Homo sapiens: one gene and its partner. The protein of the gene in region 1 purifies or fractionates together with the protein of each later gene. This does not show direct contact. Each region holds a gene or a part of one and is shown in the gene's direction. Other genes may lie near its edges. The genes, in order: C9orf152 and SEC24D.

What was found.
Region 2: the proteins of C9orf152 (region 1) and SEC24D purify together in Homo sapiens (affinity purification with mass spectrometry; one large-scale study listed by BioGRID and IntAct). This does not show direct contact.

Annotation. Positions count from the first base shown.
Region 1 is NC_000009.12:110,205,310-110,209,861, reverse strand, and holds the start of C9orf152 (uncharacterized protein C9orf152), read left to right. Parts: upstream 1-1,702; 5' UTR 1,703-2,282; coding exon 2,283-2,475; intron 2,476-4,552.
Region 2 is NC_000004.12:118,735,035-118,738,849, reverse strand, and holds part of SEC24D (protein transport protein Sec24D), read left to right. Parts: intron 1-470; coding exon 471-589; intron 590-3,815. UniProt on the Homo sapiens protein: Component of the coat protein complex II (COPII) which promotes the formation of transport vesicles from the endoplasmic reticulum (ER).

The DNA of each region.
Region 1 (4,552 bases):
CCAGGCTGAAGTACAGTGGTGCAATCATGGCTCATTTCAGCCTCGAGCTTCTGGGTTCAAGTGATCATCCCACCTCAGCCACCCGAGTAGCTCGGACTACAGGCATGTGCCACCATGCCTGGCTAATTTTTGTAGATACAGAGTTTCACTATGTTGCCCAGGCTGGTCCTGAACTCCAGGGCACAATCAATACACCCACCTCAGCCTCCCAAAGTGCTGGGATTACAGTTGTGAGCCATTGTGGCCAGCCTACTGCCATGATGTCTACTGCCATGATTTCATGGCAGGTGCAGCTGGTCCAGCATGGATGGGTTGCTCTTGCCTTCATGATAGAGTGATCTACCGATAAAAAGGTATGAGGAAGCTTTGGCTATCTCTCTCGGTATTTTTTTGAGACAGATTGAGCTCTAATCCAATGTGATTGCTGTACTTATAAAAAGGGGAAAATTGGGCACAGAGACACCCACATAGGAAGAACATCATATTAGGCCGGGTGTGGTGGCTCACGCCTGTAATCCCAGCACTTTGGGAGGCCAAGGCGGGCGGATCACAAGGTCAGGAGATCGAGACCACGGTGAAACCCTGTCTCTACGAAAAATACAAAAAATTAGCTGGGCGCGGTGGCGGGTGCCTGTAGTCCCAGCTACTCGGGAGGCTGAGGCAGGAGAATGATGCGAACCCGGGAGGCAGAGCTTGCAGTGAGCTGAGATTACGCCACTGCACTCCAGCCTGGGCGACAGAGTGAGACTCCCTCTCAAAAAAAAAATAAAATAAAAAAATAAAAAGGAAGAACATCATGTCAAGATAAAGGCAGAGATTAGGCAATGTTTTTGCAAGCCAAAGAATACCAGAGATTGCTAGCAAACCATCAGAAGCAAGGTGAGAGGCATGGAACAGATACTCTCACACAGCTCCAAGAAGAAACCAACCCTGCTCACACCTTGACTTTGGACTTCTAACCTCCAGAACTCTGAGACAATAATGTTTGTTGTTTAAGACATCCAGTTTGTGGGATTTCGTTATGGCAGCCCTAGCAAAACTAACATATACTACCCAGTGAAGATTTGCTCTCCATCTTCCACGGCTCCCCCACATCAAATGACTAGATCTTGTCTGGTTAATGTCCAAAATGTCTTGTAGGTTCAGGCTCTACTCTGTTTCCATTGCCTCTGTAGACATATTGGGTAATTGGGTAATCAGTAAGCACCGTGATAGGAGAAGATAGAAAGGGACTTAGTTGACCAAATGCAGCAAGGCTAGGTCAAAGCTGGTGTAAGAGGGAGAGGGTCTGGGATTCAAAAGCAATGTGGAAATGTTGAGGCTGGCAAGCAGAGAGTGAGGGGATGCCTAACTTACCACTTGGTTGGAGAATGCTGAGACGGCAGAGGCTGCACCAAATGTCCAAGGGGTAGGGCTGGCCCGAGGCCAAGATTCCCCTGGGCTCTGTCCCATGGCTGACTTTAGGGCTGAATTTTCACCTGGGGTGTGTGTTGGGGTCTGAGTGGAGATCTTGGGGAGATCTTTGCTACTGGGTTTCTTTAGGGTGTGGCCGCGGGGCACACATCCAGAGGCACCGACCTTGTGAAGCTCCCGAGGGTGTTCTTTGAACTACTGCAAACCCAACCGGCAGGTTTGCTGAAAAGTGGCCACGTTCCAGTCCAAAATGTGTGAGCAGAGCGCGAGCTTAGCACTCCCCAGCCCCAGTCCCAGCTCTGCCAGGAAAGGGGAGACTTCACCGTGGCACTGGGAATTGGATTCTAAACTTTAGGATCAAGCAATGGAAGGACCTGGAATAAGACACCTTCTTGACCCCCCTGAAGGGCTCTGAGCAGCTGGGCTTGCCTTTCTCTTTGCTCCCCCAGTCCTCCCCTTACTTCTCGGTCTCCCACTCCCCATCACTCCTTTCCCTGCCTCCTCCTGCCTGTCTCCATCTTCCTCCCTCTCTTTCTTCTCTCGCCCCATTAATCCCCGCTTGTCACTATCACCTCCTTCCTCCAGTCTTTCCCCCTTCGCTGCCCCTTCTTTCCTCTGACATTTCCTTCTCCTCTTACTGCCACTGTCTCCCACCTTTCTCCTCCCCCACATTTCTCCCTATCCCTACCTCCTCTTCCCCTTCATCTTTCTCCTTCCCCCTTATTTTTCTATCTCCTTCCTCAGTCCCACTCCTCTTTCCACCCTCCTTTTGCCCGTCACTTCTCCTTCTCCCTCACTGCCCCCTCCCTCTCTCTCCCCTCCCCAGGTCCTGCCCCACCCAGCTGTGTTTGCTTTTCTCCCGGATCCGGATGGAGGGGTTGCCCTGCCCGTGCCCAGCCCTGCCCCACTTCTGGCAGCTTAGGTCTCACTTAATGGCTGAGGGCTCCAGGACTCAGGCCCCTGGGAAAGGGCCCCCACTCAGCATCCAGTTCCTGCGAGCCCAGTATGAAGGCTTGAAGAGGCAGCAGAGGACCCAGGCCCACCTCCTGGTGCTTCCAAAAGGTAGGAATGGACAGGTGCTGGGGAAGGAGAGACTTACCATGGGAGACCTGAGTGGCAGAGCTGCAGGGAGGCAGAGCCAGGGCTTTGCCAGCCCTCCCTCCCAGTGGGGAAGAGCAGGGGAGGCGGGCTCAGGGCAGCTCTGCTCAGCTGTCCCACCTGCTAAGGGAGCCAGGGGCCTCAGCCAAGCACCTGGCTGCCAGCACTGTTCCTGGCCTCTGCTCTGATGTTCTAATCTTGCTAGACTGGTCAGCCTGGTGAGCCAGGCTTGGCCCCCCTGCTAGCCCAGGTATGGCGATAGGAGCTCTGCTTCCTGGCTGGGTCTAACTAAGGCACCTCCTACAAACCAGAGAAATTCACTCTGGAGGTAGAAGACATGGCGTTCCCAACAGCCTGGGAACTGTCTGGGCCAGAGGACGCCTAGGGCTCAGAGACCCATGAGGCATCCCAGGCTCATCCAGCCTCAAACATCAGGCAGGGAGGTGTGATTGGACACAGAAACCCCCTCATGGGGAGAAACCTCCTCCCTTTAGGAACTCAGATTTCATTCCAGGAGGGAGTTAGAGGCACAGGGCTCAGAAAGCAAGGGCATGTCAAATCCCAGCCCTTCCTCCTCTAACAGAGGAACAGGTTGAGGGAGAAGGGAAGATACCCTGAAAGGTCAAAGCTGGGCTCTGTGGGATTCTGTGGTTATTTGTAGAGTTCAGTAGACTCTTTGGGCTGCCCTTTGCCAGGCCAGACTGGGCAGGAATCAGGGGCCAGAGGGACCTCTCTGTCTAGGGCAGGAAGTGTGCTGCCTTTTGGGAACAAAAGTGGCACCTCTGAGCTGAAGGAGCCCATCTCCCATTACCTGGGCTGTTGCCAACCAATGGAATCCTCGTTCCTGGCAGGAGTGAACTGGCACAGCCAAACAGTCACCATCTCTGCAGGGCATAAACTGAAAGGTTCCTAAAGCTCTATCCCACCCTTGAGGGTATTTATTCATTCAGTTATTCAACAAACATTTATCAATTTAAATCCCTATCAAATGGAAACACAATGCTTAATACACCTGCAATTCAGACTCACAAATCTAATTGCTTAGTGGGGATGATCCAAAGACATCTCAAATTCAACATGCCCCCAGAGAATTCACTATACCCTGTGCTCGTCCTTTCTCCTGCTCTTGGTAACTCGGTACCCCCTTTCCCATCATTACTAGGTGCTAAATTATGGTTCATGCAAGGAGTGCCCAGGTGTGGCTTTCTCCGAGAAGACTTCTGACCTCCCAGCTAGGTCAGGGTCATTCAGGGCACTTTCAGCAGTTTGCAGTTCCACATTTTTTTTTTTTTGAGACAGATTCTCACTCTGTTGCCCAGGCTGGAGTGCAGTGGGGTGCAATCTCGGCTCACTGAAACCTCTGCCTCCCGGGTTCAGGCAATTCTCCCTGCCTCAGCCTCCTGAGTAGCTGGATTACAGGCACCTGCCACCATGCTCGGTTAATTTTTGTATTTTTTTTAGTAGAGATGGGGTTTCACCATGTTGGCCAGGCTGCTCTTGAACTCCTGACCTCAGGTGATCCACCCACCTCGACCTTCAAAAGTGCTGGGCGTGAACCACCATACTTGGCTGAGTTCCACATTCTTTATCTAACTGTGAGAGGCAGCATACTGTGTAATGGAGTGGTCATGTACTGGGTCTTGGAGCACAGCCTGAGTTTGAGTCCCAGCTCTGCCATTTACTTAATATGCAGCTTTAAACAAGTTACATAAATTTTCTGGGGCTCAGTTTCCTCACCTGTCAATTGGGAATAACTGTAGTACCCAAATCATAGGGTTATTGTAGGAATAAAATGAACTAATATGTATAAAGCTCATCAAGGCCTTATGCACTGACTGGCTGAGGACAAGATCACGTATGTCACATGTATCTAAGTAGGAAGGCCACTTGAAACACTAGCACTGAATGTGAAGGAGTAGGTAATTATCCAGGGAGAAATCAGAGTAAGGTGACAAAAATAAGGTGAAAATGGCACTAAGGAGGCAAAAGAGCAATTAATTGTCCCCTATACTTTAGCAACAGGATAGATGGTGGTATCTTT
Region 2 (3,815 bases), on another chromosome or scaffold:
GACACATTGGGTTAATGGACAGAGACGATCTCTAATGTTAGACTAAACTTGCTTATCCATACCATGATAACTATGAAATAGAATGGGCCCAAGGTGGAATTTTCTTTGGCTTTCCTTGAGAAATTCTACACTAAAGTTTGGAAAAGGTAGCAATCCAGCCCGTAAGAATTCAGGACATCAAAAAATGACAAATTGGCCTGTCTTTTTTTCTGTGTGTACAATTCTAATATTCTGAAGGTAAATCTGGCCAATATAACCTTTTGCTGTAGGTAGGCCAATGTTCTCCATTAGTTAGATCATCATATTTAGTCAAGAGGAGACCATTAGCAAATGACTTGAACAGATTTAAATGCTATTATTCTTGCTGGGTGGTCTGAAGATAATAGCAACTTGTTCTTTTTTGTTTGATTATTTGAAGAGATCAGTGTCTGAGCTAAAACTCATGTCCTTTTCATTGTTTTGTGATGTAGCTTTTAAAGCAGTTCTCCACCAGCCTTTGAAGGTCATCCGGGAAATTCTAGTTAATCAGACTGCCCATATGTTGGCATGTTACCGGAAGAATTGTGCAAGTCCTTCTGCAGCAAGCCAGGTGAGCTACCTATTGCACATAGATGTTAAAGTGTTACAAACGACTACTCATTTCTTCAGCACATAGCTATAGAAGGCTTATGATGTTGCAGGCACTTAGATGCTGTTACAGTAAACAGTGTAGCTGAGAAGATTAAGAATGCAATTTGGGGGGGCTGTGGTTTTTTTTTTTATAGCCAACATTTAAAAATGTGAACAAAAAAAATGGATGTGCATATTCAGTTGACAGTCACTACGGTATGTATAAACAAAAGAATGTTATATGTAAGAAGTGTCCTAATATAAACAGGATTCTGTTTTGTATCCAGAGATGGGTATTTTGTTATGAAATGTGTATGCTTAAATACATTTTAGGCATATTAACAAAGTTGACATGAGCTGATGGCAGTAATAACATTTTATAAACAAATATAATTTATAAATATAAATACAGGAATTCTTTACATTTAAAAGTTATTAATAGGTGTGAAGAGTTTTCAAAGAATTGACTCTCTCCATCATCTAGTAATTTGAAATTTTAGAAGATTCTTTGAATAAACCTCATTTAGTCTCTCTCCTATAAAAGGAAAAGCAGAACCTCAAGTCCACATTTATTTTGCATTTGCTCTCTTGTTCACATTCTTCTCTATGTCAATAAAAGTTAGATGGCATTTTTTATAGCTGTGTATCAAATATGTGAATATAGAATTCCAACTAAAATAGCAATAGATGGGAAAACTTTCTAGTTCATTCATTGTCAAAAGTGAGTGCTGAGAGGACATCTGAAGCCCCACCTAAAAGTAAATCCTCAGCAGGAAAGATAATGCAGATAAATTTTGGGTCCAAATTCTTAATCTGGGCAAAGAAAGAAAACAAACACACTTACTAGATGGATTTTTCATAAAAGTTCCTTTCCATGCTGTCCAAAGTGATTAAATTAGTCATCCATTCTTTTATCTCTTCTGTTGATAATCATATAAGCAACTCCTGAATCTATATGAGTATTCAGTCTTCTTTATTATTCAGAAGATTTGCCATTTTAGTCAACTCAAATATCAGTACTATTTCATAGCATGCTAGTTCAGGTTACACAAAGCCCACCAGGTACACCTGGAATCTAGCCAGAATGCAGTCCAATCATGAGCACTTTAAACATTTACCTCATTTTACTATTTGTCTTAGAGCTATGGAAACATTATTCTGTTTCTGGAGTATCTCACACTTCAGGAGCATTAGTTGAAGCAGTACAGATACAGTTAGTGTCCTCTCTGGACATTCATTTGTTAACTTTGAAACAACTGGATTCAAAGACCTTAAGTTAAAAACAAACTTATTGCCTATTTATGGAAGAAAAACCTGTTATTTTATTCTGGTTTAAAAGTTAAAAGCATTGCCTCTACCACTGGATAACCTGTTTGCACAATTAAATGATTTCCGGAGTTAAAACATTATGATTATAAATTTTCTCTGAATAAGTTGATAGGAGATTATTCCTGTTCTTATAATGAGGTTTTTCCATTAGCACTTTTCAAGTGTGCCTTTCAACCAATGATATGTTTTTAAAAAATAATGTAACTTAAGTACCTTATGATTAACCATCATGGAGTCTAGAAAATGTGGAGATTCTAAAACAGTATTGTCTGAAAACATAGAATAGTTGGACTTAATGTTCTCTTCAGAAAATCTAACTGTAAACTTGGTACTTTCCTACAGTTCACTTGTGAAAAATAATATCTATGAAGATGGAGAGATTCCTAAAGGAATTCCACTATTTTACCATAGAGCCCAAAGTTTCCTTGACCCAAGCAAGACCATCAAGGAGCTATCTGGATTGTATGATACTGGACCTCAGTAGAACTACTTTTACTGAATTGCTGGAGCCAAAACTAGGCTGCAGCAAGAGAAGGCAATTAGGGTACAAAATCTAAGGAAGCTGTCATTCTGAGGATCATATGATAGATGCTGGGTTAAGACATATGGCTGGGCATGGTGGCTCATGCCTGTAATCCCAGCCCTTTGAGAGGCCAAGGCAGGTGGATCACTTGAGGTCAGGAGTTCAAGACCAGCCTGGGCAACATGGTGAAACCCCACATCTACTAAAAATACAAAAACAGCTGGGCGTGGTGGCATGGACCTCTAATCCCAGTTACTTAGGAGGCTGAGGCAGGAGAATAGCTTGAACCCAGGAGGTGGACGTTGCAGTGAGCCGAGATCATGCCACTCGACTCCAGCGTGGGCAAAAAAAAAAAAAAAAAAAAAAAGACATATAACTAGAAACAAGATAAATTAGGCTGGGTGCAGTGGCTCACACTTGTAATCCTAGCACTTTGGGAGGCCAAGACAGGAGGATTGCTTGAGGCCAGCAGTTGAAGGCCAGCCTGGGCAACATATCGAAACCTCCACCTCTACTAAAAATAAAAACTTAGCCAGGTGTAGTGGTACATGCCTATAGTCCCAGCCACTCAGGAGGCTGAGGCAAGAGGATCCCTGGAACCCAGGAGCTTGAGGATGCAGCGAGCTATGATTGTGCCACCATACTCTAGCCTGGATGACAAAGTGAGACCCTGTATCTTTAAAAAAAAAAAAAAAAAAGCAAACTTTAAGGCTTATAAGGCTTACATAAGCAATGTAGATTCTTTTAATTAAATCTAATATCTCACTGTTCTGAGCTTAAATATATCAATATCATATGGGAGTGCATTCATTTCAAAAGGCAAGTCAAATGACCTTAACTGCAAAATAAGCTTTCTTTTTAAAAAAGAAAAACAAAAAAAACCTCATTACCACTTCTGTCACTTTAAAACCTAAAGAAGGAAAGAATTTTCCAAATTCAAGCAAGCTCGACTTATATGAATTACTGCTCCCACCTCACTCTCATTCTTTACTCCCAAAGAATAATTTAGTTATTTATGGAGGGGGTCAGTCGGGTGGGGAGATTTTACAGTGGTAATCCATGGCCACATTTTCTTCCTCACCTCAAAAACATTGAATAAGATTGTCTTCTTGTTTTCTTTCATTCTTTAACTCCATTTTTTTGGTTTTGTTTTCATGATTAGATTTTCCTTCTCATTTACCACCTGTTTTTCTTCCCTCTGCCTTCTATAATCCAATCTCCTCTGATTAGACTTTTTAGTCCCAATAGTGTCATTGTGGGCCAACCTCACCCCTTTGTGGTATTTAGGATCACAGATTTCTGAACTCTTAATATGACCTCATTAATTAGAAGCAACCAGTGAAATTTCAATCTG